4 linked regions of the Homo sapiens genome follow. The protein of the gene in region 1 interacts with the protein of each later gene in a biochemical or structural test. Each region holds a gene or a part of one and is shown in the gene's direction. Other genes may lie near its edges.

Evidence for each region.
Region 2: the proteins of MAP2K7 (region 1) and GADD45B form a complex in vitro, tested with the Homo sapiens proteins (2 studies listed by BioGRID and IntAct).
Region 3: the proteins of MAP2K7 (region 1) and MAPK8IP2 form a complex in vitro, tested with the Homo sapiens proteins (2 studies listed by BioGRID).
Region 4: of the proteins of MAP2K7 (region 1) and MAP3K11, one has a biochemical effect on the other in vitro, tested with the Homo sapiens proteins (2 studies listed by BioGRID).

Annotation. Positions count from the first base shown.
Region 1 is NC_000019.10:7,899,917-7,906,879, forward strand, and holds the start of MAP2K7 (dual specificity mitogen-activated protein kinase kinase 7), read left to right. Parts: upstream 1-3,960; 5' UTR 3,961-4,028; coding exon 4,029-4,152; intron 4,153-5,891; coding exon of another isoform or gene 5,892-5,939; intron 5,940-6,963. Other genes in the region: volume-regulated anion channel subunit LRRC8E, read left to right, coding at 1-997. UniProt on the Homo sapiens protein: Dual specificity protein kinase which acts as an essential component of the MAP kinase signal transduction pathway. Essential component of the stress-activated protein kinase/c-Jun N-terminal kinase (SAP/JNK) signaling pathway.
Region 2 is NC_000019.10:2,471,301-2,478,766, forward strand, and holds GADD45B (growth arrest and DNA damage-inducible protein GADD45 beta), read left to right. Parts: upstream 1-4,826; 5' UTR 4,827-5,058; coding exon 5,059-5,102; intron 5,103-5,228; coding exon 5,229-5,330; intron 5,331-5,728; coding exon 5,729-5,951; intron 5,952-6,187; coding exon 6,188-6,301; 3' UTR 6,302-6,957; downstream 6,958-7,466.
Region 3 is NC_000022.11:50,596,393-50,603,802, forward strand, and holds the start of MAPK8IP2 (C-Jun-amino-terminal kinase-interacting protein 2), read left to right. Parts: upstream 1-4,400; 5' UTR 4,401-4,426; coding exon 4,427-4,491; intron 4,492-5,396; coding exon 5,397-5,502; intron 5,503-6,830; coding exon 6,831-7,106; intron 7,107-7,233; coding exon 7,234-7,327; intron 7,328-7,410. UniProt on the Homo sapiens protein: The JNK-interacting protein (JIP) group of scaffold proteins selectively mediates JNK signaling by aggregating specific components of the MAPK cascade to form a functional JNK signaling module.
Region 4 is NC_000011.10:65,611,210-65,619,052, reverse strand, and holds the start of MAP3K11 (mitogen-activated protein kinase kinase kinase 11), read left to right. Parts: upstream 1-4,831; 5' UTR 4,832-5,296; coding exon 5,297-6,035; intron 6,036-7,843. Other genes in the region: PCNX3 (pecanex-like protein 3), read right to left, coding at 1-1,113, 1,347-1,442, 1,544-1,583, 1,704-1,803, 2,042-2,229, 2,589-2,741. UniProt on the Homo sapiens protein: Activates the JUN N-terminal pathway. Required for serum-stimulated cell proliferation and for mitogen and cytokine activation of MAPK14 (p38), MAPK3 (ERK) and MAPK8 (JNK1) through phosphorylation and activation of MAP2K4/MKK4 and MAP2K7/MKK7.

The DNA of each region.
Region 1 (6,963 bases):
CAGCTTGCTCCACTCGCCCGCCAGGCTACCCTTCTCCTTGCAGGTCTTCCTGCGGGACCACCTGAAGGTGATGCGCGTCAAATGCGAGGAGCTCCGCGAGGTGCCGCTTTGGGTGTTTGGGCTGCGGGGCTTGGAGGAGCTGCACCTGGAGGGGCTTTTCCCCCAGGAGCTAGCTCGGGCAGCCACCCTGGAGAGCCTCCGGGAGCTGAAGCAGCTCAAGGTGTTGTCCCTCCGGAGCAACGCCGGGAAGGTGCCAGCCAGTGTGACCGACGTTGCTGGCCACCTGCAGAGGCTCAGCCTGCACAACGATGGGGCCCGTCTGGTTGCCCTGAACAGCCTCAAGAAGCTGGCGGCATTGCGGGAGCTGGAGCTGGTGGCCTGCGGGCTGGAGCGCATCCCCCATGCAGTGTTCAGCCTGGGTGCGCTGCAGGAACTTGACCTCAAGGACAACCACCTGCGCTCCATCGAGGAAATCCTCAGCTTCCAGCACTGCCGGAAGCTGGTCACGCTCAGGCTGTGGCACAACCAGATCGCCTACGTCCCTGAGCACGTGCGGAAGCTCAGGAGCCTGGAGCAGCTCTACCTCAGCTACAACAAGCTGGAGACCCTGCCCTCCCAGCTCGGCCTGTGCTCAGGCCTCCGTCTGCTGGATGTGTCCCACAATGGGCTACACTCCCTGCCACCCGAGGTGGGCCTCCTGCAGAACCTACAGCACCTGGCCCTCTCCTACAATGCCCTGGAGGCCCTGCCCGAAGAGCTCTTCTTCTGCCGCAAGCTGCGGACGTTGCTTCTGGGCGACAACCAGCTGAGCCAGCTCTCGCCCCACGTGGGTGCCCTCAGAGCCCTCAGCCGCCTGGAGCTCAAAGGCAACCGCTTAGAGGCGCTGCCAGAAGAACTTGGCAACTGTGGGGGGCTCAAGAAGGCGGGGCTCCTGGTGGAAGACACGCTTTACCAGGGTCTGCCGGCAGAAGTGCGGGACAAGATGGAGGAGGAATGAAGCTGGGGTGGGGCCGTTTTAGGTAGAGCCTTAAAAATGCTTCTGCCCTGGAATCTCAACCATTGTCTTCCAAGATAGGAAGCCAAGTGGGTCCAGGCCAGGAGATGGGGGGGGCGGGGGCAGCTGTGTCATCTTTCTGGGGCCCAGGAGGATCTGGGCTGGTTTGTCTGGGGAGACAGACAGGATGTTGTGGAGCTGGGGTGGAACCTGGTATGGAGGGATTAACTCAGTCATGGCATTCTCCGACCAAAACCACACCTGTGTCTCTGGCAGGCTGGCTGGCCTTGCTCCCATCCCTAGAACTGCTGCCTCTCCCTGGATATTCCAGCTCAATTAGTGCCACATATGGGGGAAACGACACATCCCAGTGGGATTTCCAACACTCCCCCTCCCCATGCAACAAAGCAACTTACTTCTGGAGTTCTCTCCCAAGGAGAGGACACAGACACAGTTGTTTGCTGTGTTATATGTTAGCTCCGAACAATGGTTCTCATTTGGCTAAGCATCAAAATCACCTAGGGAGTCGGTGCAAAACAAAATATCCCAGTCCCCTCCCCTGAAACACTGACTCAGGAGGTTTGGTTGGGGGCCAGGAGTCTGTTCCTAAATATTCCAGGTAGTTCTGGTGCAGGTAAGTGGCCCTGAGACAGTATGTTGGGAAATGCTGACGTAAAGGTATCAGGGCCGGGCGCTGTGGCTCATGACTATAATCCCAGCTGTTTGAGAGGCCAATGCAGGAGGATGGTTGAGCTCAGGAGTTCGAGATCAGCCTGGGTAACATAGCGAGACCCCACCTCTGCCAAAAAAAAAAAAAATAGGGTATCCAAATATCTAGATTCTGATCCCTTTTGAGGTCCTAGACCCTTTGAGAAACTGATGAAGCCAGGCACCTCCTTCCTCAGGAAAATGCTGGTGTACAAATACACACAAAGCTCTTCAGGCAGCTGATAGATTTCCCCCAGAGAGCTATTCAAGGACTTCCTAAGGTGGGTGGACTGCAGGGTTAGGACACCTGCTATAGAGGTGACATTTTTCCAAGGACAAGCAGGGACTTTGGTCTTGACTGTTCTCTGGGTGCTTAATAAATAATACTAATTATGCAAGTTCTAGTTTTGATCTCTTATGTGCACTCCTGTCATTGTCTAACACCGTCCATTAGGGCCAGACATAGTGGCTCATGCTTGTAATCCCAGCGCTTTGGGAGGCTCAGGTGGGAGGATCGCTTGAGCTCAAGAGCTTGAGACCAAACTGGGCAACATAGTGAGATCTCATCTCTACAAAAACATACAAAAAAAAGTTGGCCAGGTGTGCTGATGTGTGCCTGAGGTCCCAGCTACTAGGCAAGCAGAGGCAGGAGGATTGCTTGAGCCCAGGACCCAGGAGGTTGAGGCTGCAGTGAGCTGTGATCACACCACTCCACTCCAGCCTGAGCAACAGAACAAGACCCTGTTTTTCTTTCTTTTTTTTTTTTTTGAGACGGAGTCTGGCTCTGTCACCCAGGCTGGAGTGCAGTGGCGCAATCTTGGCTCACTGCAACCTCCGCCTCCTGGGTTCAAGCAATTCTCTGCCTCAGCCTCCCAAGTAGCTGGAATTACAGGCGCCTGCCACCATGCCCGGCTAATTTTCGTATTTCTAGTAGACACGGGGTTTCACCATCTTGGCCAGGCTGGTCCTCTCCTGACTTCGTGATCCATCCGCCTCGGCCTCCCAAAGTGCTGGGATTACAGGCGTGAACCACCATGCCCGTAACCTTTTATTTCATGTGACCAAGTAACACCCGTGTGCCAGAATCAAGGATGAGTCTCATGTTCTCAGAGCAGAGGCACAGAAGGCTGCCTGGAAGACGGAAAGGTAAAGACCTCAGCTATAACTCTACACTTGTGTGTGCTCCACCCACAAATCGTCACCAGAGGAGTTCCGACAAGCCGGTAACTCTCATCCCAAAGTGTTCCCTCGTTGGACCAGAAGCTGGAAGGGCACTTGGCAGAGTCTGCCTGGCCCTGGCCACCTCCCGGGTGTCCGCAAAATCAGAACTTCCTTCTCGCATCTAAGAGCAGAGGGAAGCCGCTCTTGGGGGGATCCCTGGGTTCCAGATGGGACATTTCCCCAGCACCCGTCGGACCACTTAAAGGAGTGGTTTAGGCTGCCGGGGGCCCAAGCACTGGCACCTAACCCCAGCGCCCCTCCTCAGATAGGAATTCTCCACGTCCAGGCGCTGGGCTCACGTTCCGGGTGCGAGAGAGATAAGGGGGGTGTCTTGAGGTTCTATGTGGGTCTGGCCAACAACTCTGGCCTTGACCTTGGCCCCGTCGCCGAGGGCAGGGGTCACACCGCTGGGTTCCCATGGCCGTCCCCTCCCCCCTGGCTTCGGCCAACTCTGAGCCTGCTGGGGCTGGCAAGAAGGGAAAGGGCTCTCGACGGAGCCTAATTACGGTGAGGAGGCGGCACCCCGCTGCCAGCAGGAGGCTAGGAGGTAATTAAGCACAAGAGGAATCCTAATAAAGCACCATCAGTGAGGAAGGCATTCCGAAGGGACGCCCAAGCCGACCGTGAAAAGCGAGGAGGCTGAGGCTGCACCGCCGTGGAGACCAGGGATCGACTGCCGCTTTGGGAACGAGGTTCCAGGAATGCGCATGCGCAAAAGCCACGCGGGCGAACACGGCTTCGCCTCGCTAAGCATGCGCGCCGTTTTCCCCGCCCACCGTCCTCAGAAGAATGGTGTTTCCTCGCAGCGCCTCTCTCAGGAGCGATCGGGAATTGGCGCATGCGCACTACGGTGGTGGTGGCGACGAAGGCGGGGGTTGCACGTTGCCTGCCTCGAGCTCTAGGTGGCGTCATCCTTCGGGCTGAGCCGAAGCACGCACGCGCGGAGGTTCGCACGCGGAGAAGGGCGGGTGCGCGCCGCGGGCATGCGCGGTGCGGGGCGAGACGGCGGCTCGACGGGGTCATCCGGGCGCAGGCGCAGTGCGGTGTTTGTCTGCCGGACTGACGGGCGGCCGGGCGGTGCGCGGCGGCGGTGGCGGCGGGGAAGATGGCGGCGTCCTCCCTGGAACAGAAGCTGTCCCGCCTGGAAGCAAAGCTGAAGCAGGAGAACCGGGAGGCCCGGCGGAGGATCGACCTCAACCTGGATATCAGCCCCCAGCGGCCCAGGCCCAGTAAGCACGGCGGCGTGGGGGAGGGGGCGGGCGGGCGGGGCGGGGCGCGCGCCGCGGGAGGCCCCGCCCCCACCACAAGGCCCCGCCCCCGCTTCCGGGGCGCTCGCTCTCCTCTCCGCCCCCCCCGCTGCGGGCTCGCGGGGCGAGGGTCACGGTGACCCGGGGGGCGTGGAGCCGGCGAGCTCCGGGGGGTTCGCACCCTCAGGGCTTGGGAGCCCAGTTCCCGGACCCAGGCGAGGCCCCCAGCTGATGACCCGCCCCCATCGCCGTGATCCTCTGGGTCGGGCTTCCCCGACTCCACGCGACAGTGACCACATCCAGGTCGCCCCGAAAACACAGACACGTCCCTGTTGACCTGATGCTACCACTCTCGTCATCTCAGGGACTGTCTGGCGCCCCCCTCCCCCGGCCTGGGGGCTTGTCAGCCCCGTGCAGCGACGATCTACGCACACGCGCACGCCTGGCTCGGGGACACCTGAGGTTACTTGACCACATAGAGCCCCTCCCCATCTCTTCTGACCCGAGGATTCTCCCTCTCGCTCTCCCTGTGACCGTGTCTGAGGTGGGGGGACGGGAGGGGGTCCCTTCTCCCCCTCTTGGCGACAGTGACCATGGCATTGGGCTCAGCAGACCCCCTCCCACATACACCAGGCCCCGCAAATCCCTGTGACCAGTTTCACTGCCACCATCTTGGTGAGCGTGTGGTGTCTGACCTCCAGAAATGCACATCGACCCCCAGCCAGCCCGGTGACTTTGTCACCTGTGTTCAAGTGATGGCTCCCCTTCCCTTCACACCCACACCCACCTGACCTGGGGACACCTGGGGCCAGTGTGACTCTAGGCCTGCTCCCGCCGCGCCCCAGCATACATCCACCTGCTTTCTGATCAGTCCCACCACCTCGGTACCTACCTCCCTGACACCTTGTCATCCTAGATCAGTACCTCTCGCTTCACACACACCTGGCCTGGGAACACTGACCATATCTAGTCTCCCGGCTTTTTCCCCAAGATCCTGGTCTCTAAATCCTCTGGGCTGGAGGAAATTAGATTTTCAAACCCTGTGAACACCACCCCTGACCCATGATCCTTTTTGTGTCTTTCTTGACCCAGTAAAATTCTCTCTTGTCTCCTCTGATGTGACCTTCGTAGTTTATTTAGTTCTCTCTATGGAGTCATTATGGCAGGCGAGAAAGGTACCCCCGTATCTGGGCACCCCACCCATTCCCTGGTCACCCAGCCTGACCTTCACAGCCTGACACCCTCCTGTCCCTCCCTCTCCTGACCTGAGTCAGCGTGGGTTCCTCCTTGGGGAGTCTCTTGGGGGTCCAGAGAAATCATGGAGGTGGGGATTCTGGTGCAGGACACTGCCTGAGACAAGAAGCCCAGCCAAGACACGGGTCCCTGCTAGCCCCTGGGGGCCGCCCTCCCTGGCCCCTGAGTGGATGAGACAGGGTTGAGTCCAGGATCCCGGGTGCCTTCAGGGGTGGCCGTTCCCATGCAGAGCTAGGAGGCCGGTGGCAGGCAGGCCCCCGAGGAGTCCCCTCCAGGCGTCTCTGTCTGTGTCAACTCCATCCCATCCTCCCCGCCCTCCCCATCTCTGTCGGTTCCTAGCCATCTCTGCAGTTCGGTGCCTCCCCCTCCTCCTCGTTTATGATTTGATTTCTTTTCTTTTGGACGAATCAGTCGTTTCTGTTGTGATTTATCGTGGTGTTGTTTTTTTCTTCCTTTTCCCCATCCAGTTATTGTGATCACTCTAAGCCCTGCTCCTGCCCCGTCCCAACGAGCAGGTACCAGCCTTTTTATCATCGCTGCTTGGACATCTGCACCATTGACCTAACCGCTGCCCCGGCCGCAGAATGGCGTCCCCCAGCCCCCATGCTCTGTGTGTGTCCCCATGTCCCTTCCCCTCACTCTCACTTTCTCTCTCACTCCACTCAAGCAGCGGTCAGCCCAGCCCAGCCTCCTCTGCGTCCTCCCTCCTCCTCCCCCTCCCTTACTCCCAGCTCCACTTTGGACTCCCTGGAGGAGGAGGTGGGCTCCCCCACTGAATGGGAGTCTGTGGCCTCCGGGGGTGGGGGGGGTGCACGCCTGTGTGTGTGTAACTGAGAGAACGAGAAAGTTGGGCCTGGTGGGTGGGTGGCCTGTGCCTATGGATCTCTCTCAACAACTAGGTGAACACATAGCACCCCCCGGGTTCCATACCAGCCCTGGGCGCCAGGGACACAGCAGTGAATAGAACAGATGGAGCCCCTCTCCTCTGTAGCGGGGGGCTGCAATAGGGGGGCCCACTGGACAAGGAGCACATTCCCACCAGAGAGAACATTCTAGCTGGGTGAGCGGCCCTGCAGGGGGCCAGCCTGGGGGAACCTCTGGAGACGGTGGGAATTGAACAAAGCCTCTGGGGAGGCCAGGCACGGTGGCTCACACCTGTGATCCCAACACTCGGGGAGGTTGAGGCTACAGGGAGCCATGATCACACCACTGCACCCCAGCCTGGGTGACAGCGAGATCCTGTCTCAAAAATTTAAAAACTGGGCCAGGCGCAGTGGCTCATGCCTGTAATTTCAGTACTTTGGGAGGCCAAGGAGGGTGGATCACTTGAGGTCAGGAGTTCGAGACCAGCCTGGCCAACATGGTGAAACCCTGTCTGCATTAAAAATACTAGAGATTAGGCCAGGCACAGTGACTCACACCTGTAATTCCAGCACTTTGGGAGACCGAGGCGGGTGGCTCACCTGAGGTCGGGAGTTCGAGACCACCCTGACCAACATAGAGAAACCCCGTCTCCACTAAAAATACAAAATTAGCCGG
Region 2 (7,466 bases), 5.4 Mb from region 1:
AGTACGTTTTTTTATTTTTTATTTTTATTTACTTATTTTTTTGAGATGGAGTCTTGCTCTGTCACCCAGGCTGGAGTGCAGTAGCGCGATCTCGGTTCACTGCAAGCTCCACCTCCTGGGTTCACACCATTCTCCTGCCTCAGCCTCCTGAGTAGCTGGCACTACAGGCGCCCGCCACCACGCCCGGCTAATTTTTTGTATTTTTAGTAGAGACAGGGTTTCACTGTGTTAGCTGGGATGGTCTCGATCTCCTGACCTCGTGATCTGCCCACCTCAGCCTCCCAAAGTGCTGGGATTACAGGCGTGAGCCACCACACCCGGCCACATTTTTTTTTTAACTCTGAATGAATGCAAAAACCTCTATGCTGGATAAAATTTTAAAAATTTATTTTGTTTAAAGCCAAATACGGTGACTCACGCCTGTAATTCCAACACTTTGGGAGGCCGAGGCAGGCAGATCATTTGAGGTCAGGAGTTCGAGATCAGCCTGGCCAACATGGCAAAACCCTGTCTCTACTAAAAATACAAAAAATTAGCTAGGTGTGGTGGAGGGCGCCTGTAGTCCTAGCTACTTGAGAAGCTGAGGCAGGAGAGTCACTTGAACCCAGGAGGTGGAGGTTGCAGTGAGCTGAGATTGCGCCACTGCACTCCAGTCTGGGTGACAGAGCGAGATTCTGTCTAAAAAAAAAAAAAAAAAAAAAGATTATGACAGGATTACTCATACTGATTATTCCTCTCACCTCAGGCTCCAAGATGGCCTCGGCGACACTGTTATTGATCTCATTTTTTATTTTATTTTATTTTTAGACACAGGGTCTCCCTCTGTTGCCCAGGCTGGAGTGCAGCGACACAATCATAGCTCACTGCAGCCTCAAACTCCCAGGCTCAAGTGATCCTCCCACCTCAGCCTCTCACGTAGCTGGGACTACAGGTGCGCACCACCACGGTCGGCTAATTTTTAAAATTTTTGTAGAGATGGGGTCTCCCTATGTTGCCCAGGCTGGTCTCAAACTCCTGGGCTCAAGCAATCCTCCTGCCTCGGCCTCCAAAAGTGCTGGGATTACAGAGGTGAGTTCTGGCGCCCAGCCCAAAGATAATAGCACACATTTCCTGAGTGCTTACCTGATTCTGGGAATTTCCTCCTTCAATGCCTGTGATGAAGCCTTTGTGTGACTGTTCCCATCTTACAGAGAAAGAAACTGAGGCTGGAGCTCATTTTCTTTTTTTTTTTTTTTTTGAGAAAGAGTCTCACTCTTGTTGTCCAGGCTGGAGTGCAGTGGCACGATCTCGGCTCATTGCAACCTCCACCTCCCGAGTTCAAGCGATTCTCCTGCCTCAGCCTCCTGAGTAGCTGGGACTACAGGCATGCGCCACCATGCCTGGCTAATTTTTATATTTTTAGTAGAGATGGAGTTTCACCATGCTGGCCAGGCTGGTCTTGAACTCCTGACCTCGGGTGATCCACCCGCCTCGGCCTCCCAACATGCTGGGATTACAGGCATGAGCCACCACGCCTGGCCCGGCTGGAGCTCATTTTCTGAGCTCAAAGGCACAGAGCTCAGAGTCTCTTGAAGATATTCCAAGATACTCCAGATATTCTAAGATGCCTGGAGCCAGGGCTGGAAAAAGGAGGCACAGGTGGGCTTGGGGTCTAGAAAGAGAAGCCTGGAGGGTGGAGGACCATGGGGGTCCAGGCAGTCAGTCTGGGAGAAAACAAGGCCAAGTCAGTGTTGACAGAGGAGTAGGGTTTTCCTGCTGAAGACCAGAGGAAGACAGCATCCCAGGCGGAGGAAACAGCTGACAAAGGCTGGGCCTCTCGCAGAGGAGGTTGTTATGGCTGGCACGGGGGACACACGGAAGAAGGACTTGGACACATATTCTCTGAGGCCCTGCTTTGCTCGCCTTATTTTATTTATTTTATTTGCTTTATTTTTGACACAGTGTCTCGCTCTGTCTCCCAGGCTGGAATGCAGTGGTGCAATCTCGGCTCACTGCAACCTCCACCTCCCGGGTTCAAGCGATTCTCCTGCCTCAGCCTCCCGAGTAGCTGGGATTATAGGCATGTGCCACCATGCCCAGGTAATTTTTGTATTTTTTGTAGAGACGGGGTTTCACCATGTTGGCCAGGTTGGTTTTGAACTCCTGACCCCAGATGATCCACCTGCCTCAGCCTCCCAAAGTGCTGGGATTACAGGCATGAGCCACCGTGCCCAGCCCTTATTTTATTTATTTATTTGAGACGGGGTCTCACTCTGTTGCCCAGGCTGGAATGCAACTGTGCAATCCCGGCTCACTGCAGCCAGGAACCCCTGGGCTCAAGTGATCCTCCTGTCTCAGCCTCCGGAGTAGCTGGGTGCACACAACACACCCCATTCTTTCTTTCTTTTTTTTTTTTTTAAAGACTGAGTCTCACTCTGTCACTCAGGCTGGAGTGCAGTGGCACGATCTCGGCTCACTGCAATCTCGGCTTACTGCAACCTCTGCCTCCCAAGTTCAAGCAATTCTCCTGCCTCAGCCCCCAGAGTAGCTGGGATTACAGGCATGTGCCACCACGCCCGACTGATTTTGTATTTTTAGTAGAGATGGGGTTTCTCCAGGTTGGTCAGGCTGGTCTTGAATTCCCAGCCTCAGGTGATCCTCCTGCCTCAGACTCCCCAAGTGCTGGGATTACAGGAGTGAGCTACCGTGCCCGGCCTTTTTGTTTGTTTGTTTGTTTGTTTGTTTGTTTTGGGGAGGATGGAGTCTCTCTCTGTCACCATGCCATGTGCAGTGGCATGATCTCGGCTCACTGCAACCTCCACCTCCTGGGTTCAAGTGATACTCCTGCCTCAGCCTCCTGAGTAAGCTGGGATTACAGGCGCGTGCCACCACGCCCAGCTAATTTTTGTGTTTTTAGTAGAGACAGGGTTTCACCATGTTGGTCAGGCTGGTCTCGAACTGACCTCACGATCTGCCCGCCTCAGCCTCCTAATGTGCTGGGATTACCCAGCCTGCAATACTTTTTAAAAATCAAAATCAATGCCCAAGTATCCATGAGGAACAAAATATCAAAATTGTAAATAAAGACAGAATCTGACTTTGCACTTATCCCACCCACCTCCCTGATCTTCCTTATCTTCAGCTCATGTTGGCCATGTTGGTCAGGTTGGTCTCGAACTCCTGACCTCAGTTGATCCGCCCGCCTCGGACTCCCAAAGTGCTGGGATTACAGGCGTAAGCCACCGCGCCCGGCCGATTTAACTTTTAAATTGAAATTATAAAATATAAATATGTATGTTGCATGCGTAAAACATTGCATAAAGTTACATAAAACGTTGCAACCGCCACGGTCCCCTTATCCCCCGCCTCCAGCCCAGTGCCCCGCCCGTCCGTCCCTCTCTTCCGGCGCTGAGGGCGCAGAAACTCGGCGCGGCCACCAGATGGCGCCACCGCGCCTCGCAGCCCCGGGACATTTCGTGCCCCAGCGGTGGGCGGCGCGGAGGAGGTGGGATGCGTCAGCCGGACCCGCGGGCCGGGGAGCCGGGCAACTGGGGAAAGTGAGCCGCCGGGCGGAGGCCAGACCCCAGGCTGGCGGGGGAGGGGACTCAGATGTGAGTCACCCGGGAGCCCCCAGTCGACCGTGGGAGACGTTGTCATGCGGGGCCTGCCAGCCTCGCTCCTGAACAGCCTTCCCGGGGCGGCGGAGTCCTGCAGGCGGCCGTGCCTGGCGCACACGCGTGGCTCCAACACGAACTAGCCTATGGCCTCACCAAGCCTCAGTTTCCCCTTTTGCATAATGCACATAAGCATCCCCCCTGCTTCCCAGGTCTTGGATTAAATCATCCATGAATCCGGAGGGGTGGGGGGTACCAGGTCCGCACCACGCACTCAATGCAGGTCAGCGCCCACCCCGGAGTGAGAAATAAAAGTAGCCGTCATCCTTGCACGTGGGCCCTGGGTGGCGGCGTGCAGCCGGAGCCTGCACCATTCCCCTCAACAATGGCTTTCTCCAGGGCCTGGAGGCCTCCGCACGGGCAAAGGCTGGAACGCCAGGCAGCCGGCGGGGGCGGGGCCGCGCCACCTGCACCTCCCACGCGCACCCCACCCTGATACTCGCGGGGTCGGCGAGGAGGCGCCCACTTTCTTCTCCAGAGCGCCCCGGGCTTTGCAACCTCCCACTTTCGGGGCCCTCGAGGAGGCCTCCCGCGACCACCAGGTGACAGCTGATGTGTATTGGGCTCTTACTGTCAGCCGTATTTTATGCCATGCTCTGCAAACCAGCGAGGCCGGCGCTGCAGACCCATTACTCAGACGGGAACAGAGAGGCCGGGAGAAGCGAAATCACCCAGGGGCTGGGGTCGTCGCAGCCAGGAGAGACTCCGGCCCTCACCACCACCTGGGCGAGATCACGCTGCAAACGGGGCCCCTTCCCGGTGCAGCCCCTCCACCCCCAGCAGAACTTGGGAAAGGCGCGGTCCGGGACTCTCCGCGGATCGGGAGGGGATTCCAGGCCCCCCCGAAAGTCCGGGCCGCCTCGCGCGCTGGAAATCCCGCGCGCGCCCCGAACCGCGGCTCGGCTGCCGGGAAATCAGGAGAAAAAAACTTCTGCTTTTTTTTCTTTTCTGGCATTCGCGGTCACCTACCCGGCCCCCGCGCGCCCTCCTCCCGGTTCTCGCCCCCACGTGGGGCGCCCCCGCACGCCGCTCCTCCCCCTCCCCTCCGTCGGCCAACCGCAGAGCTAGCTGCACTCGCCCTTGTCTTTCCACCAATAGGAGGGGCGAATGACTCCACTGAGGCCACGCCCAATGTTCAAGTCTATAAAAGTCGGTGCCGGAGGCTCCCAGCTCAGATCGCCGAAGCGTCGGACTACCGTTGGTTTCCGCAACTTCCTGGATTATCCTCGCCAAGGACTTTGCAATATATTTTTCCGCCTTTTCTGGAAGGATTTCGCTGCTTCCCGAAGGTCTTGGACGAGCGCTCTAGCTCTGTGGGAAGGTTTTGGGCTCTCTGGCTCGGATTTTGCAATTTCTCCCTGGGGACTGCCGTGGAGCCGCATCCACTGTGGATTATAATTGCAACATGACGCTGGAAGAGCTCGTGGCGTGCGACAACGCGGCGCAGAAGTAAGTAGCCGGGGCTGCCGCCGCCTGAGGTCAGCCGGGACGGGATGGGTCGGGTTGGGCCGGGCCGGGAGCGGAACGTAGCACCCGGTGGTCCGCCCGTCACTGATCCCTCTTTCCTGGTCTCAGGATGCAGACGGTGACCGCCGCGGTGGAGGAGCTTTTGGTGGCCGCTCAGCGCCAGGATCGCCTCACAGTGGGGGTGTACGAGTCGGCCAAGTTGATGAATGTGTGAGTCAGACCCCCTTCCCGGGCTGGGCGCGGGTGGGACGGGACCTCCCCTCCGCTCTGGACGCTTTCCGCACGCTTGTCTTGCATGGAGCTGGGACTTCCCCAAGTGCCCCCCGCTGTGGATGCAGAGCTTCTCTGCCGTTTTGTGGATCGGGGGCTGCCGTATCCTGATGTATCGTCTGCAAACACCCCTCCCGCCGTGGGCCTGTCTCCCCCTACCCCATACTTTGAACCGTGTGCCCTCCCCTCCCCCCACCGTCACCAGCTTGCAGAGGCAATCCCCTGCACCCTTGCAGTTTCTCTTTTGCTCTTGCACGCTCCTTTTTTGCAAACTCCCCCTGCACGGTGGCCCCTCCCCTGTCCCCGGCTGACCCATCCCTACCCTTTGGCCCCCTCAGGGACCCAGACAGCGTGGTCCTCTGCCTCTTGGCCATTGACGAGGAGGAGGAGGATGACATCGCCCTGCAAATCCACTTCACGCTCATCCAGTCCTTCTGCTGTGACAACGACATCAACATCGTGCGGGTGTCGGGCATGCAGCGCCTGGCGCAGCTCCTGGGAGAGCCGGCCGAGACCCAGGGCACCACCGAGGCCCGAGACCTGCATTGTCTCCTGGTCACGGTGAGTCGGGCCTCTGCCCTGCCCCGCCACGCCCGGGCACCTGGGCCGGTGTTTGTCAACAAAGTCGGGCTGACTGGTCCTGCACAGCTCAGCGCTCAGCCACGTTTGGCATGTCCCGTGGGCAGCCGGGCTGGGGCCTCCTCACCCAGGAAGCTATTTTGAGCCTGACTGTTTTCCCCACACAGGGGCCCCGGGAGAGGGAGGCTCCACTAAACCCCTTCTTTTCCCTCCTACAGAACCCTCACACGGACGCCTGGAAGAGCCACGGCTTGGTGGAGGTGGCCAGCTACTGCGAAGAAAGCCGGGGCAACAACCAGTGGGTCCCCTACATCTCTCTTCAGGAACGCTGAGGCCCTTCCCAGCAGCAGAATCTGTTGAGTTGCTGCCACAAACAAAAAATACAATAAATATTTGAACCCCCTCCCCCCCAGCACAACCCCCCCAAAACAACCCAACCCACGAGGACCATCGGGGGCAGAGTCGTTGGAGACTGAAGAGGAAGAGGAGGAGGAGAAGGGGAGTGAGCGGCCGCCCCCAGGGCGGAGATCCAGGAGCTGGCGGCCGCCGATCCGATGGAGAAGGGGGGACCCAGGCCAGCAGGAGACAGGACCCCCGAAGCTGAGGCCTTGGGATGGAGCAGAAGCCGGAGTGGCGGGGCACGCTGCCGCCTTCCCCATCACGGAGGGTCCAGACTGTCCACTCGGGGGTGGAGTGAGACTGACTGCAAGCCCCACCCTCCTTGAGACTGGAGCTGGCGTCTGCATACGAGAGACTTGGTTGAACTTGGTTGGTCCTTGTCTGCACCCTCGACAAGACCACACTTTGGGACTTGGGAGCTGGGGCTGAAGTTGCTCTGTACCCATGAACTCCCAGTTTGCGAATTATAGAGACAATCTATTTTGTTACTTGCACTTGTTATTCGAACCACTGAGAGCGAGATGGGAAGCATAGATATCTATATTTTTATTTCTACTATGAGGGCCTTGTAATAAATTTCTAAAGCCTCTGGTTGCTTGTATGTTTTCGGCTTCTAGAACAACTAGGACCCCTGCCCCCTCCCCGGGGACACGCTTCACCCCCCACAACCCCCGCCAGCTCACCAGGAAGTGTTACTTAAGCCCCTGTTAGCAGCTCCAGGCTCCCGTGCAGAAACAGTACCCCTTCTCTCCGCAGCAGGCGCCGCCACCGACTCCAACAAATCTATGCCTCTTTTTTTTTTTCCTTCTCCTCCTACCCTGCAGCAATTAAGAGACCGGTTTATTACGAAACCTGGCCGCCGTGCCACCACTGTTACTGGCTGTGCAGGAGCCAACCCCAAGCTCTGGGCACATATGGAGGCATTTCAGCGGGAGGGGGTGCTGGCTGCAGCCCCTGACCGCCTAGGCGGCCACCGCAGCCCAAGGTCCGGATCGGTCAAGGGGGCACCTGGTACCACACAGCGAGGTGAGCTCAGGGCTTGCAAGGAAGAGCGCTTTTGGAGGCTTCCCCAGGGAGTGCCCCCCCAGCCCACCACAG
Region 3 (7,410 bases), on another chromosome or scaffold:
GTCTCTACAAAAAATAAAAACATTAGCCAGGTGTGGTGGCACACATCTATAGTCCAACTACTCTGAGGAATGAAGTGGGAGAATTGCTTGAACCTAGGAGGCAGAGGTTACAGTGAGCTGAGATTGCACCACTACATTCCTGCCTGGGTGACAGAGCAAGACCCTGTCTCAAAAAAAAAAAAAAGTGGGTATTGTAGTAATGCAGCAAGAGACCAAGAAAAGTAGGAGGTAGTGATCAGAGACCTGGCTGCATAAAAATGAAGATTCGGGAAATGGTGGCGTTAGGACTTCACCATGGTGAAGGTAGAACTCTTAATTTTCATCTTTATTAAATGTGTCTGTTTGCAGTTTTAACCATTGGCATATTTATTTTGTGTTTGTGATTTCTGTGAAATATGAGTACAATAAATACTGATAGTTTGCATTTGTTTTCTAATCTCTCAGAAAGTTGTCAGAAAATGTTCTCTGACTTTTTAGAATTGCTGTGGTCAGGACTGTGGAAGCTGTTGCGATTCCAACTCTCCCTTCTAAGTCCAATCAATTTTGTGCTTTGTAATGTCTATGCCATTCGTGCACCATAGAGGGAAGAAAGCGTTAAAATGGTCGCGTCACAACATCTTGATTTGTCATTGAAGGAGAAGGAGTCTGGAAGGACGCTGACAACGGGTGGTGGTCAGGAAGGAAAACCCAGTGCCTGTGGCCCAGAGGCTGGAGGAGGAACTTCAAGGAGGGATGTTCAGCTCCCTGTGGACCCCCATTTGTTCATCCATACAATGATGCTCTGAGGAGCACACAAGGAAGGTGCAAATTTGATAAAATGTGCATGATGTAAGGAGCATAAACCCCCTCAGGAAAGAGTTGCTGCCTTTTCACTAATGTATCCCTGAGCTGCACAGAGCAGCCCTGGGGGACTGGGAGGACATGTCCCCGGTGTGAGGAGCAGGGGAAAGGTGAGCCTTAAATGATCACCAACAAACAACAGGGCCTGTGTCTGGGGCTTACACCACGACATGTGGTCCTCGCAGCACCATTGCTCAGAGGAAGAAACCAAGATCTCGAGGAACTGAGTAATTTGCCCACGTTCAACAAGTTGGTGCAAAATGAAGAGTGGCTCCCGTATTTCAGACTTTAAGGCCGACGATCTTCCATCTGTGCTCTGGGGGCAAGATGGGAGGTCCACAGATAAAATTGCGGGCGGTATCCCCCATCTCATGGTCTTTACGCTCATGGGACCTGGGAGTGACCATCTTTTAAGAGGGAGGGAAGGAAGGGGAGAGGCTTGAGGAAGGTTTTGGGGATTAGGATCTAAGATGAAATTTGAGACTATAAGACTTCAGATTGGATGCTGTGGCTCATGCCTGTCATCTCAGCACTCTGGGAGGCCATCACCTGGGCTTGGGCCCAGGAGTTTAAGACCAACCTGGGTAACATAGTGAGACCCTGTTTTTACAAAAACAAACAAAATGCCAGGTATGGTAGTGTGCACCTGTGGTCCTAGCTACTCAGAAGGCTGAGGCAGGGGGATTCCTTGAGCCCAGGAGTTTGAGGCTACAGTGAGCTAGGGACACACCACTGCACTCCAGCCTGGGTGACAGAGTGAGACCCTGTCTCAAAAAAAAAAAAAAAAAAAAAGATTTTAAGCTTGCTGCAATTCCAGATGAAGGTAGATCCTGGAGGCACTTTGTGGGAGAGGTCACTACACTTGAGTATTAAAGACTGTTGACAGATCAGAAATCAAGGAACTGACTGACCAGGGTATTGGATGGGTCATTTATGTGGATGTCCAGATGAACCAGTTTGGTGAAAAGACTCAGGATCAAAAGCCAATCTGGAAAGTTGAGGTCAAACTCTCTGTGAAATCTGGGAAGGGATCTGGATTTTTTGGGAAAGGCAGGGAGTGGTTAATAGGCCCAGACTCCCTCAGAAATGGGGAATGTTCTTAGTGCTTCTAAAAGGGAAAAGACTGTTATGGCAAAGACCTGATGCCCCAGACTGGGTTAGAGACCATAAGCTCTCTCATTCATTCATTCACATGTCTGCTAAGCACCTACTGTTTGCCAGGCACCATGCTTGGAGCCTAGGGCTTCACAGAGAGATGACAGCCTCTCTTCTCTCCAGCCAACCCAAGTCAAGAAGGCAAGCATAAACTAGTAAATGGCTTTTTTTTTTTTTTTGAGATGGGATCTCACTCTGCCCCCCAGGTTGGATGCAGTGGTGTGATCTCAGCTCACTGCAACCTTTGCCTCCTGGGCTCGGCCAATTTTTTTTATTTTTGGTAGAGACATGTTTCCAGGCTGGTTTCAAACTCTTGAGCTCAAGTGACGCACCCACCTTGGCCTCCCAAAGTACTGGGATTACAGGTGTAAGTCACTGTGCCCAGCCAAGTAAATGCCATTCTTAGAAAAATACTGTAATTGGCATAAAATATAAATTGTGATGGGACACCAAAGAGTGCAGGTTCAATCAGGCCCTGGCCACAGGCCTCTCTCTGAGCTGGAATGGTGATACCCCCCTTCCCGACTTGCATGAGCTCCTTCTGCCATGTCGTTTCTGGTGTTTGTCACTCAAGTGCCTTGTCCTTTCCTAAGGAATAATTTTCCAGGCCAGGGGCGGTGGCTCACGCCTGTAATCCCAGCACTTTGGGAGGCCAAGGAGGGCAGATCACCTGAGGTCAGGAGTTTGGGACCAGCCTGGCCAACATGGCAAAAACCCATCTCTACTAAAAACACAAAAATTAGCCGGACATGGTGGTGATTGCCTGTAATCCCAGCTACTCGGGAGGCTGAGGCACGAGAATCGGTTGAACCCGGGAGGTGGAGGTTACAGTGAGCTGAGATCGTGCCACTACACTCCAGCCTGGGCAACAGAGCAAGTTCTGTCTCAAAAAAAAAAAAAAAAAAAAAAAAAAAAAAAAAAAAAAGAATTTTCCGCAGAACTAAGACATAAAGAAATCTTAGGGCACATAACTTTCATCAAGGGGGAAAAGGGATTGCGCTTTTGTTGAAATGCCAGCCTCCTTCTTTAGCCAATATTTAGCCAGGTGCTGTGGTTCACACCTGTAATCCCAGCACTTTGGGAGGCTGAGGCCAGAGGATAGCTGAGCCCAGGAGTTTGAGACCAACCTGGGCAATACAGAGAGAGCCGGTCTCTCTCTCTCTCTTTTTTTTTTTTTGAGACGGAGTCTTGCTCTTGCCAGGCTGGAGTGCAGTGGCGCAATCTCGTCTCACTGCAACCTCCGCTTCCCGGGTTCAAATGATTCTCCTGGCTCAGCCTCCCAAGTCGCCGGGACTACAGGCGCCCGCCACCACGCCCGGCTAATTTTTTTGTATTTTTAGTAAAGACGGGGTTTCACCATGTTGGCCAGGATGGTCTCTGGTCTCGATCTCTTGACGTCGTGATCCACCCGCCTTGGCCTCTCAAAGTGGTGGGATTGCAGGCGTGAGCCACCGCGCCCAGCCACCGGTCTCTATTTTAGAAAGAAAAAAAGTGTCCTGCAGTCTCTCCCTAGTTCTGCGCCCTCAACCCTGATCTCCCGCCTCCTCCCACAGCCACCGTCTCGAGCTCAGCTTCAACCATGGCCCTCCCCACAGGGCTCCATCCCAAGCCAGAGCGGGTCAGTTCCCTACACAGGGCCCAGCAACACGGTGCCCAAGAAAAAGTGTTTCCAGTGGGACGCATGTCGCCTCCGTGGGTGCTAACTTCTCCCAGTGCCCGTCGGTACGTCCGTCCGGCTGTGCAGTCTCTACTGAGTGCTCAAAGTCCACTTTTAGCCCCAGCCAGCATCCTCTGAGTACCTTGTGCTCGATTCTGAATCCAGCCCTGCTCGGCGACCCTCGTGCAGACGTCCCCGTGCAGCCCCGGTCAGCACCCCGTGGGGACAGCTCCGATCAGCACCCGACGGCGGACAGCTCCTCCCGCGCCTCCCGCCTCGCCCGCCACCCCGCTCCGGGCCGCACCCGGGTTAGGGTTCCTGGGGGGATCCTGGGCGCGGCGGCGCAGCTCCCGGGGCCGCCCCGGCCTCTCGCCCAGAGGAAACAGCCCACGGCGAACCCGAGGCCCGCGGACCCCGGCGCTGCCTCCTCGGCCTCCCGCCCCGCGCGGGTCCTCCAGGGCGGGGCCCGACGCCCACCCGCCCGCCCCTTCCCTCCCGCCCCTCCCCGGGAAAAATCCTCATCGCACGCCCGGCCCTTCCCCAACCAGCGCCCGGCAGTGAAGCCGCCGCCTCTCCTCCAACCAGCGTCCCCGGCCGCGTCCCTCCCCCGCCTCCCCCGCCGCCCTCCCCGCGCCGCCGCGGAGTCCGGGCGAGGTGCGCGGGGCGGACGCCGCAGGGCGTGTCACGAGGTGAGCGGGGCGGGCCGAGCGCCGGCGCGGGGCGCGGCGAGGCTCCCGCACCCCCCGCCGCAGTCGCGGGCCTCTCCCGGAGAAGATGGCGGATCGCGCGGAGATGTTTTCTCTCTCCACCTTCCACTCGCTGTCGCCGCCGGGCTGCAGGTACCCCCCTCGGCGCCCGGGCCGGGCGGACCCTCCGCTCCCTGCGCACCCCCCCGACCCCGACCCGGCCCGGACCCCCGTCCCCGCCGCCCCAGCCCCGCCGCCGGCGCGGACCCGGCCCCGGCCCCCTGCGGTCCCTGAGCCTCGGCTCGGGCGCCCCACCCCCACCCCGCTCCCACTCCCTCCATCTTCACCGCGCGTCCCCAGCCTCAGTGACCCCCGGGCCCCGCCGGGATTCTGAGCCGCGCCCGGCCTGGACGGCTGACCTGTCAAGGGTGGAGGCCCTGGGCCGACCCTCTGCGGGGGAGGATGCGGGCGGGATGCGGGCACACCCTCCCGGCGCGGCGTGTCCCGGTGGCCTTGGCCTCTTTCAGTGGACGCCAGACCTGGCCGATAGGGCCCGGCCGGGAGAGAGTGGAAATCAAGCCCGGAGCCCTGCGGGAAGGGACTGGGGTTGGGAGGACGCTGGGCCTCTGGGTTTAGGCCTCACTCCGCCGGAGAGGGGGAGACAAACAGGCCAGACTCTCTTCCCAGAGCAGGAGCGACCCCTCCCCATCTGCCGCTGCCGCGTTGCAGCTCCCCCTCCCCTGCTCTGCAAGACCCTGACCCCAGGGGCCTGGAGCTGCGAGTGGAGGGAGGAGAGGCTGCTGGCTCTCCAGGGAGGCGGGGTGGGAGGGGTGGGGGCAGGGTTGGCTCCTCCGGGCAGGCCTGGCTCAGATGGGGGAGGGGATCCACAGGCGAGCAGAGCTTGGGGGTCAAGATGATGGCAGGATGTGTTCCGAGAGCTGGGGGCTGTGGAAACCACTGGGTGTAGGAGCTGACGCCTCCCTCTGCCCCTCCTCAGGGCCAGTTGCCAGGCAGGGAGTCCAGGGTTGGTGGCTCTCTGACCCTGGTCTCCTTTCCAGGCCTCCCCAGGACATAAGCCTGGAAGAATTTGACGACGAAGATCTGTCTGAGATCACTGATGACTGTGGCCTGGGCCTCAGCTACGACTCAGACCACTGTGAGAAGGTGGGAGAAGAGTTGGGGACACAGATCCAGCTCAAGGGAGGGCCTCATTAGGTTCTTCTTAGCGTTCACTTGGGGTTTTAGGGTGGGTGTGAGCTCAGCCTTGAACCGGGGACTCCTCTGATGGCTCCTCCCCACTTAACCCTTGAGGTTTCCTTGGTATCAACTCTCTCTTATTCCAACACATTGCAGGCCTCCACGCAGGGCCTTCCCCAGCATTCTCCCCGACCCCATCGGTGGCCAGCCCGGGGCAGGGAGGTGCTCCTTTGCTTTGGGTGCCCTCTGTCCTCAGATCACTCCCAGAAAGATCTAATCCCTGGCAGCTGCCATCACAACCTTGTCCCCTCTGCAGCCCTGTGCCCTCGTCTGCAGCTCCCATCTGTCTGTTTCATGTCTCCCCCTGCTGAAATCTTTTCTCGTCCATCTCTTGCTTCTCCTCCTCCCTGTCTCTCCACATTTCTGCTTTCATTTATTGAAGAACATTTCTGAGCAACTGCCATGTGGCAAGTACTGGGGGCTTCTGGGTGCTGGGAGTGGAACAGGACAGCTGCTCTCTGGAGCTGCAACTTAGTAGGGGAGAAAGACTTGTAAGGGACAATGGCTGCCCACGTGTCAAGGGCTGCATTCCAACAGGGACATAAGTTCCACGAGGGGGAAGGGAACCCAATCCACACTGAAGGAATCAGGGAGAATTTCCAGAGGAAATGTCAACCATGCCCTGAGGTTAGCAGAGCCAGGCAGATGGGGTAGGTAGGAGGGAATGGAGGAGAGGAAGTGCCAGCATGGGGAATAACTGTGCCAATGGCCCTGGGGTTGGCGCAAAGTTGGTGAATCCTCAGAGTGCAGAGGCTGTCTCTCCATTTCTGCATCTGTTTGATGTTTACTGAACATCCGCTGAGCCCCAGGTCTTGTTCTTGGGGGCGGGTGCAACAGTGCATAACATGGACATGACCCTGCCCTGGTGGGGCTTGCAACAGACCAAAAACCATGTCCAGTAACTGTAAGTTGTGTTAAAACGCTGCGAAGGGAACACAGTGCTGGTGTCAAATGTGATGGGGTTCTGCAGTTAGATGAGTCTGAAAGTGGGGCTGGGGCTGCTCTGAGAATCCCTGTCATTCAGCTGTAGAGTTTAGGCCCTTCCCAAGAACTGGAGTGATCCCAATGTGTGTTAGGCAGATTTTGAAAACATCGCCCTGTAGACAGAGGGGCAGAGTGAGCTGGAAGGGGCTCTCCTTTGACTGATGCTCCCCGATTTCCCTTCTCCTAGCACCTGGGCCCCTGGGCTACTGCTGCCCTCTGGCCCAGCCCTGCTATCTCCCTCCGTCCTGCAGGACAGCCTCTCCCTGGGGCGCTCGGAGCAGCCGCACCCCATCTGCTCCTTCCAGGATGACTTCCAGGAGTTTGAGATGATCGATGACAATGAAGAGGAGGACGATGAGGACGAGGAAGAGGAGGAGGAGGAGGAGGAGGGAGATGGGGAAGGCCAGGAGGGAGGAGACCCTGGCTCAGAGGCACCTGCCCCCGGGCCCCTTATCCCCTCCCCTTCCGTGGAGGAGCCCCACAAGCACCGGCCCACCACCCTCCGTCTGACCACACTGGGGGCCCAGGTGAGTGCCCGGACCCACAGCTCCCTGGAGCTGAGCCTGGGTTCATAGCACCTGGGCTGCAGCCAGCCCTGCTCACCCCCTGGGAGCTGGCCCTCCTCAGGACCGCCGTCATGTATCTCCACCCCAGGACTCCCTAAACAACAACGGAGGCTTTGACCTGGTGCGTCCGGCCTCCTGGCAGGAGACAGCGCTATGCTCACCCGCCCCGGAGGCCCTCAGAGGTGAGGGGTGGTGGGCCCGCGGGGCGCGGGGAAGCGGGGGAGGAGGGCAGGGAGGATGGACTGGCTGCTGGAAGAGGCCTGGG
Region 4 (7,843 bases), on another chromosome or scaffold:
CTTCCTCCTGCAGCTCCCCCCGCCAGCCGGGCTGGTTGGCAGCGGGTCCCCTTCGCGCCTCAGCAGGCAGCACAACAGGCTCACTAGCAGCCTGCTCCACCCCAACCTGGGCCTCCAGCTCTGCCTTGCAGCCAGCCAGTGGGGGCCTCAGAACATCACCCCCAGCCCCATCCATGCTCAGCACACGGGCATGTGTTTTAGCGCTGGCGGTACTAGGCGTCCGCTGGGTCCCATATGGCCGCTTGGGGGGCACAGCAGTTCCCTCCTCAGCCCCATGGGGGGCCCTCCGCTTCCGGGGTCCCCCTGCTGCACCCCGGGAGCTCTCAGGGGAGTAGCAGGAAGTAGAAGAGGAGCTGTCAGTACTGTAGCGGCGCTGCGATCGGAGACTGGAGGCCGGGCTCAGTTCACTGCCCTCACTAGTGTCTTCATCCTCAAAGAAGCCCCCACCTTCAAGCAGGGGCCGTCGAGGGGCACGGCCAGGTGGAGAGTGTCTTCGCAGGGGTGGCTGCCGTTTGCTAGGCCGTAGCAGGGCCAAGTCCTTGGGCCGCACGACCAGGAGCGGCTCAGCCAGGCCCGGTGGCGTCCCTGCTCCAATGACCGTGTCAAAGGAACGCAGCGTGTCATCTGAGGGGACCCCGGCGTCTGGTGAGGCAGGCAGCTCAGCCTCAGAGGGTGGGTCTGTGTCGCTGCCCTCAGGGGCTGGCCCCCCTGGGGGGCTGTCCAGATGGGTGGAGTTGGTCTTCTCACTCTTGAAGCTGCTCAATGTCTCCCTGTCAGTGCCGCTGAAGCAGGAGTCTGAGGAGCCGGCTTTCTGGGGCGTGGGCTCCCCTGAGCCCCGCCGGTCAAGGGGCTGATAGCCACCTGCCCCCCTGCGTTGTTCCCGTCGACTGCTGGTCCTCACCAGGGCCCGGTCAGGCTGGGTCAGGGTCAGGAAGCTCTTGCTCAGCTCCTGGCTGAGGCTCCCCTTCAGCAGGGGGCTCATGGGAGTGTCAGCCATGCTGCTCCCACTCCAGGGCGCTCCATCTCCAGCCAGGGGAGAAGGCTCTGAAGAGTCTGTACTGGCAAGAGAGGGGTCTGGGACAGCCCCTGGAGGCGTCTGGGGAAGGTCTCCAACTGCCAAAATAAAGGGAAACAGAAAATGAAAAAAGGGTTTTCTGCAAAACAAACTAGTGGTTAAGGGAGGTCTTATGCCCTGTACTTTCCCTGAGAGCCCAGCCACAGCAGCACACTGGGGAGGTCCCACAGAGGAATACAGAGGAGACCCAGGATGGAGCCAAAGTTGAGGGGATTCAACAACGAAACAGCTGGTCTAGCCCACAAGCCTCGGCCCCATAAGGCCCACGCACTCAGTTTCTCCTGCGAGCTGAGCTTCAGCATCTCTCGGTCGGCAGAAGTCACGATCACATTGTTGCTGCCCTGCTCCCGCACCAGCTCCTTGATGTCTGCAACCATGGCCCCAGAGGTGTCAGCAGGACCCCCTGGCACAGCACGCCAGCCCCTGTTCCACAGCACTATGCTCCAACCCTGAAGAGCAGCCACCTACCTCTAAGGGGCCCAGAGTCCTCCATTCGGGGCAGCAGCTCCTGAGTAGACAGAGAGCCATGAAGGAACAAACAAGGCAAGAAGTAGGCTCAGGATGCACCCACAGTAGGGACTGGCTCGCAGAGGGACAGGAGGACAAGCTGAGGTCCAGGCCCACTCACCGAGACCTGGTTGAAGCCAAACACAGAGTGCTGGGAGCTGCAGCGCACCGGGGGTGTGGAACTGACTTTCCGGAACACTGTCATCTCCACTCCGGGGTCCCTGGCGGTGAAAAAGAGCAGCAGCTTTGAGCTAACCTCTCCTCTGTGTATGCTACTTCCTCCCATCTTTGTCACTGCTTCTTTTTCAGAAGTCACTTTACAATTCCAGGGCTAACACAGGACAAGTGTTCACAATCACTCAGAGAGCCAATGTTCCCTAAGCCCCTACTCCACCCTGCAAGGTTCCGGCCCAGGCACCAAAAACCCTCAATCCCCAGCACAGCCCCTACCCCACCCACCTGGGTGGATTGCTGTCCCCCTGGGCAGGCTCTTCCTCCAGCTCCCCCATGGTAGAGCTGCGCTTCTCCACGATCTCGCCCTGGTCAAACATGGCATGAAGCCGATAATTGACAGTCTTGATAGTAGCAAAGATGACAGCCACCACGAGGCAGTACACGCCGGCCACCATCAAGCTGGGAGGCAGGACCTGAAGATGAAAGTAAGCCAGGTCCCTTTTCACAAAGCCTCGCCCCCACAGGATGTACCTGCCATCAACATCATAGCTGGGATTCACAGACTCACAAGAAAATTTCATCACCTCTCCACACAACCAGTACACAGACCTCGACAAAGGGCTCTGTATTCTGCTTAGCTGGATGAGATTAAGTGTAGGGTTCAAGGTCACTCGATCCAAGAAAGGAAGACTTTGGCCCCTCTTCCACACAGACCCAAACTCTGCAGTGATTCCTCTCTCTCCACGTCCCAGAGCCCAGGGCACTGCCCTGAATCCCTGCCAGGCTGCCCTCCCTCTCCCGGCTGGAGTTACAGGTGGCCGTGGCGTCTCACCATGTACAGTAAGAAGGGAAAGATGAGCAGGAAGATCCAGACATAGAGGTGGAAGCAGTTGGAGAAGGTGCTCTGGTGCGGGTCGAAGAACCAACCGCCGGTGAGCGAGGCCCACACCCCCTGGCGCAGGATCTGCAACACCTGCGACCCCATGGCCCCGCCGCTGCTGCCCGCGCCCCCCCTCCCGGGACCCTCATGGGGGCGGCCCCCGGCCCATGCCCCGTCTGGCGCCTGAGGGCCCCGGGGCCCGGCCTCACGCTCACGCCATGGCCTCCCCCAGCGGGGGAGGGGGGCTCGGCCGCGCGAGGGTGCGAGCAGGGGGCGGGGCCGGCCGGGACAGTCAGTGGTGCAAGGCCCGGACGCGGGGGTGGGGCTGCATCAGGGGCGGGGTCCGGGTCCCCACTCCTGGCCCAGAATTGCTCCGAGGGGCCGAGCCGGCAGGCAGGCGCGGGGCACGGGCCGGGTACCCGTCGGCGGCATCCAGAGGTGGTCGTGGGGTGGGTGCTCCCGGGGTGCAGGCGACAGCTCCCTAGTCTCCGGACCAGGGAGAACCCCAGGATCTGGGGTCCACTTTCGGGGTCGCAGGTCACTTGCTTGGGGCTCCGCGCTCGCCCGGCTTCTGCTGGTGCCGGCCTAAGGAGGAGGCCGGAAGAAGGAGCCGCGAACCGCCAGCCTGCAGTGGCGCATGCGCCCAACGATTCCAATTGGGACCCGGAAAAGGAAAACTTGACGGCATGAATGCGCAAGCGCAGAAAGGTGATGGCGCGGTAGGACGCGAGGGGTGCCCTTTGGGCGTGCGCAGACTCCAGGACTAAAGCAAGTTCGAGCGTAAAAGCGTTTGGGCGCATGCGTAGACCCAGGCGTTGCCAACCCAGGGTAGACGACTGGGCGGAACCAAAGAGACAGTTGAGTAGCCATTGGGTAACGGCAAAGTAATTGGCGCACAGCTCTTCCAATGAGTTACAGGAGGCGGGGAAAAGGTGGAGGCGTGGACTCCCCTAGTAGCAGCGAGAGTTCTGCACTACCGAAGCACGCCCCTCTCGGCCCGCCCCCTTTAATGCTGGACCTCGTACGTCACGACCGATTTCGCTCCCAGCGGCGTCTACTTCCGGGTCAGAGCTCAGACCTAGGGTGTAGAGAACAACCTTCCGTAACAGGCAGGAATAGTCGAAATAGGATAGCGTCGTCTTTCTTAAAGTGACAGGCTCAAAGCAATTGGGGCAGCCCTATCCAGAAGTTGTGAGGGCGACTCAGCTATTCTGAATCCAATCCTGGGCAAAGTTCTGGACAAGTCTCAGGTTTCTGCCAATGGGGAAGGGATATGAAGAAGCGGATTGTTTCCCAGGTGAGGAGAAGAAGAGAGCCTTAGGCAATCCACTCCAAGAGCTTGAGGTGCAGCCAGTTCCGTCTGTCCTCCAGTCTTCCCCACCCCATCCAACTAGCTCTACGAGGCAGAGCTTTCTCGTCCTCATATCATATATGAAAAGAATGGCCGGGCGCGGTGGCTCACGCCTGTAATCCCAACACTTTGGGAGGCCGAGGCGGGAGGATCACGAGGTCAGGGGTTTGAGACCAGCATGGCCAACATGGTGAAACCCGTCTCCACTAAAAATACAAAAATTAGCCGGCCGTGGTGCCACGCGCCGGTAGTCCCAGCTACTCGGGAGGCTGAGGCAGGAGAATCTCTTGAACCCGGGAGGCGGAGGTTGCAGTGAGCTTAGACTGCGCCATTGCATACCAGCCTGGGCGACAGAGCAAGACTCCGTCTCAAAAGAAGAAAAAAGAAAGAAAATAATGAGGCTCAGAATCGATGGATCGCACAGTCCCACAACTTCGCAGCCAAGACCAGACTCGGGTTCACCCCCTTCCCAAGTGTGGTTCTGTAACCCCGTTTTGCTGCCGCCGATGCGGATGCAGAGGGCAGAGATGGCCCATCCTTAGCAGAGACCAACCTCCACCCTAGGCAGCAGAGCACGCAGCTGGGGGCTTTTCTTTCTAGATCTCAAAAGCCTGCTGTGATGGGGGATCTGGTTCTGCCCTTTCCCTCTCTGCCTCTCCTGGCCCGCCTACCCGGGAACTCCCCGCCTGGAGCCTCTGGGAGGGGAGCGGTGCAGGCCGCCCGCGTCATCTGATGCTGTTTCCTGCAGGAGGGAGAAGAGCGGAAAAAAGTGAAACTCCACCCTCCACCTCTGCCTCCCGCCCCCGGGGCCAAAGTACAAAGGGAGGAGGAAGAAGGGAGCGGGGTCGGAGCCGTCGGGGCCAAAGGAGACGGGGCCAGGAACAGGCAGTCTCGGCCCAACTGCGGACGCTCCCTCCACCCCCTGCGCAAAAAGACCCAACCGGAGTTGAGGCGCTGCCCCTGAAGGCCCCACCTTACACTTGGCGGGGGCCGGAGCCAGGCTCCCAGGACTGCTCCAGAACCGAGGGAAGCTCGGGTCCCTCCAAGCTAGCCATGGTGAGGCGCCGGAGGCCCCGGGGCCCCACCCCCCCGGCCTGACCACACTGCCCTGGGTGCCCTCCTCCAGAAGCCCGAGATGCGGGGGGCCGGGAGACAACACTCCTGGCTCCCCAGAGAGGCGTGGGTCTGGGGCTGAGGGCCAGGGCCCGGATGCCCAGGTTCCGGGACTAGGGCCTTGGCAGCCAGCGGGGGTGGGGACCACGGGCACCCAGAGAAGGTCCTCCACACATCCCAGCGCCGGCTCCCGGCCATGGAGCCCTTGAAGAGCCTCTTCCTCAAGAGCCCTCTAGGGTCATGGAATGGCAGTGGCAGCGGGGGTGGTGGGGGCGGTGGAGGAGGCCGGCCTGAGGGGTCTCCAAAGGCAGCGGGTTATGCCAACCCGGTGTGGACAGCCCTGTTCGACTACGAGCCCAGTGGGCAGGATGAGCTGGCCCTGAGGAAGGGTGACCGTGTGGAGGTGCTGTCCCGGGACGCAGCCATCTCAGGAGACGAGGGCTGGTGGGCGGGCCAGGTGGGTGGCCAGGTGGGCATCTTCCCGTCCAACTATGTGTCTCGGGGTGGCGGCCCGCCCCCCTGCGAGGTGGCCAGCTTCCAGGAGCTGCGGCTGGAGGAGGTGATCGGCATTGGAGGCTTTGGCAAGGTGTACAGGGGCAGCTGGCGAGGTGAGCTGGTGGCTGTGAAGGCAGCTCGCCAGGACCCCGATGAGGACATCAGTGTGACAGCCGAGAGCGTTCGCCAGGAGGCCCGGCTCTTCGCCATGCTGGCACACCCCAACATCATTGCCCTCAAGGCTGTGTGCCTGGAGGAGCCCAACCTGTGCCTGGTGATGGAGTATGCAGCCGGTGGGCCCCTCAGCCGAGCTCTGGCCGGGCGGCGCGTGCCTCCCCATGTGCTGGTCAACTGGGCTGTGCAGATTGCCCGTGGGATGCACTACCTGCACTGCGAGGCCCTGGTGCCCGTCATCCACCGTGATCTCAAGTCCAACAACAGTGAGTTTCTGGGGGCATGGTTGGGGGTGGCATGGCTCTGGTACACACCTGCTCCCAACCTTCCACTGAGCCTAGCTTAGGGTCTACTGCAGGTAGGAGCTCCCACCCTAGGGGGTCCCAGCTGACCAGGGGTGCCCATGGGCTCAAGCTAGCCCCCAAACAGAGCCCCAGGCACCCAGCAGAGTCTTCCTGCGCCAGCTTCAGAAGTCCTTGACCCCAGCCTGCAGCTGCGGTTTGGACAAGTTAAGAAATTGGTATCTCTCAGGTGGGCCATAAGCATCCTGCCCAGCCATGGCTCCCACCTCAAGGAAGTCCTCTGGAAGCTCGTGCTCCTCATCTTCTCCTCCCCTAAATTCATGTTCGTGGAGTTGGTGCTCTGTCCTCCCCTCCCGTCGTCATGGGCAGCTCCTCCAGAACAGATATCTCAGAGAGGGAAGCCCTCCTTGGCAGTCAAGGCTAAGGCCAGGGCTGGAATTCTGGCCTAGCCCTCCCTGGCTTCATGACCTCTAGCTGGTTACTCCAACTCGGAGCCTCAATTTCAGAATCTGTAAAAAGGGAGAGTGAAACAGCTCAACAGCTTGGGCAAGCCCGACCTGCGATCCCCAACCCACAGCGGGTCCTCAGCCATGGAGATGGACATTTGAGGGCTGGATCGCCAAGAGGGCCTAGCCTGAAATCAGTGCTTGGGATGGGAGTGCTGGGCTAAGGGAGACTCCATCTCCCATCATTTCAAGCCCCCGACACGCTGCCCATCATGGCCCAAGAGAAGTGAGTGACAGCTTCAGAGGGTTTCCTGGTGCACGCAGCATTTAGAGAGAGAAGGCATGGAAGCAGGACCCAGCACACAGCAGGGACCAGGAGCAGGGGCCTCCTAGAGCCCAGAGTGCAGGCTGGAGAGCAGCAGTAGGAAATGCAGGAGGGGCCAGGCTCAGTGTGGTCACTGGAAAAGCATGAGACATTCTTAGAGGGGGGTCAACGTGGATATTTTGAGCCTCCTGGCCTGGGCTGACCATGGACAAGGGGCTTGCAGGAAACAGAGTGCTGAGCCCCAGATATCCAAGTTCTTGCCAGGACTGGGGGAGCCAGGAGAGGCCTGCCAACCATCCTACCCACTCTTCTCATCCCTGGTAGGGTGCGGTTCCCACCTCTCAGCCTCAACCCTGGGCTCTAACTATCTAGGGACCCCCGCTACCTGCCCCAATCTGAGGGGGATTCCCCGAAGGCACAGGGGGAGGGGACTCCCATCTTCTGTTTTTCCTCCGTTTTCTTTCCAGAAAAAATGGAACAATAGCCCAGGCCCCTGCTCCCCACCCTCCCCACTGCTTCCTGCGTTTCCTGCTGCCCCTGAGCCGGCTTCCTGTCCCTGCTCCAGCCCCTGCTCCCTCCCTAGCCCAGCTGCCTGCAGGGGAGGAAAGAGCTTGGGGTGGAGGACTTGCGGGAGGAAGGAGCCTGGAACTGCTCCCCTACTCCCCTCTAGTTCCCCTGCTTCCCTCTCAGAGTCTGGGAGGTGGTGGTAAAGGGCAGGCAAGGTGCCCTCAGCCTCCCTGAGCCTGGCATTTAACCTCGGAGACCCCAGTCCTAGGCCCAAGTTGCTGTCTGCAGGATTGGGGTGGGGGGAGTCCCTGGGCTGGTGGGGGGCACAGGCAGGAAACAATGGCATGATTTTCCTGGACAATGGGGGCCTTGTGAGGAAGCCTGGCGGGGAGAGGAGGGGGAATTCTCCAGGCCCACGAGTCACAGGACTGACCAGCCAGCCCGGCCTGGGCCTGACCTCCCCCAGTTCTCCCCAAAAGGACTCCCCCTCCCAA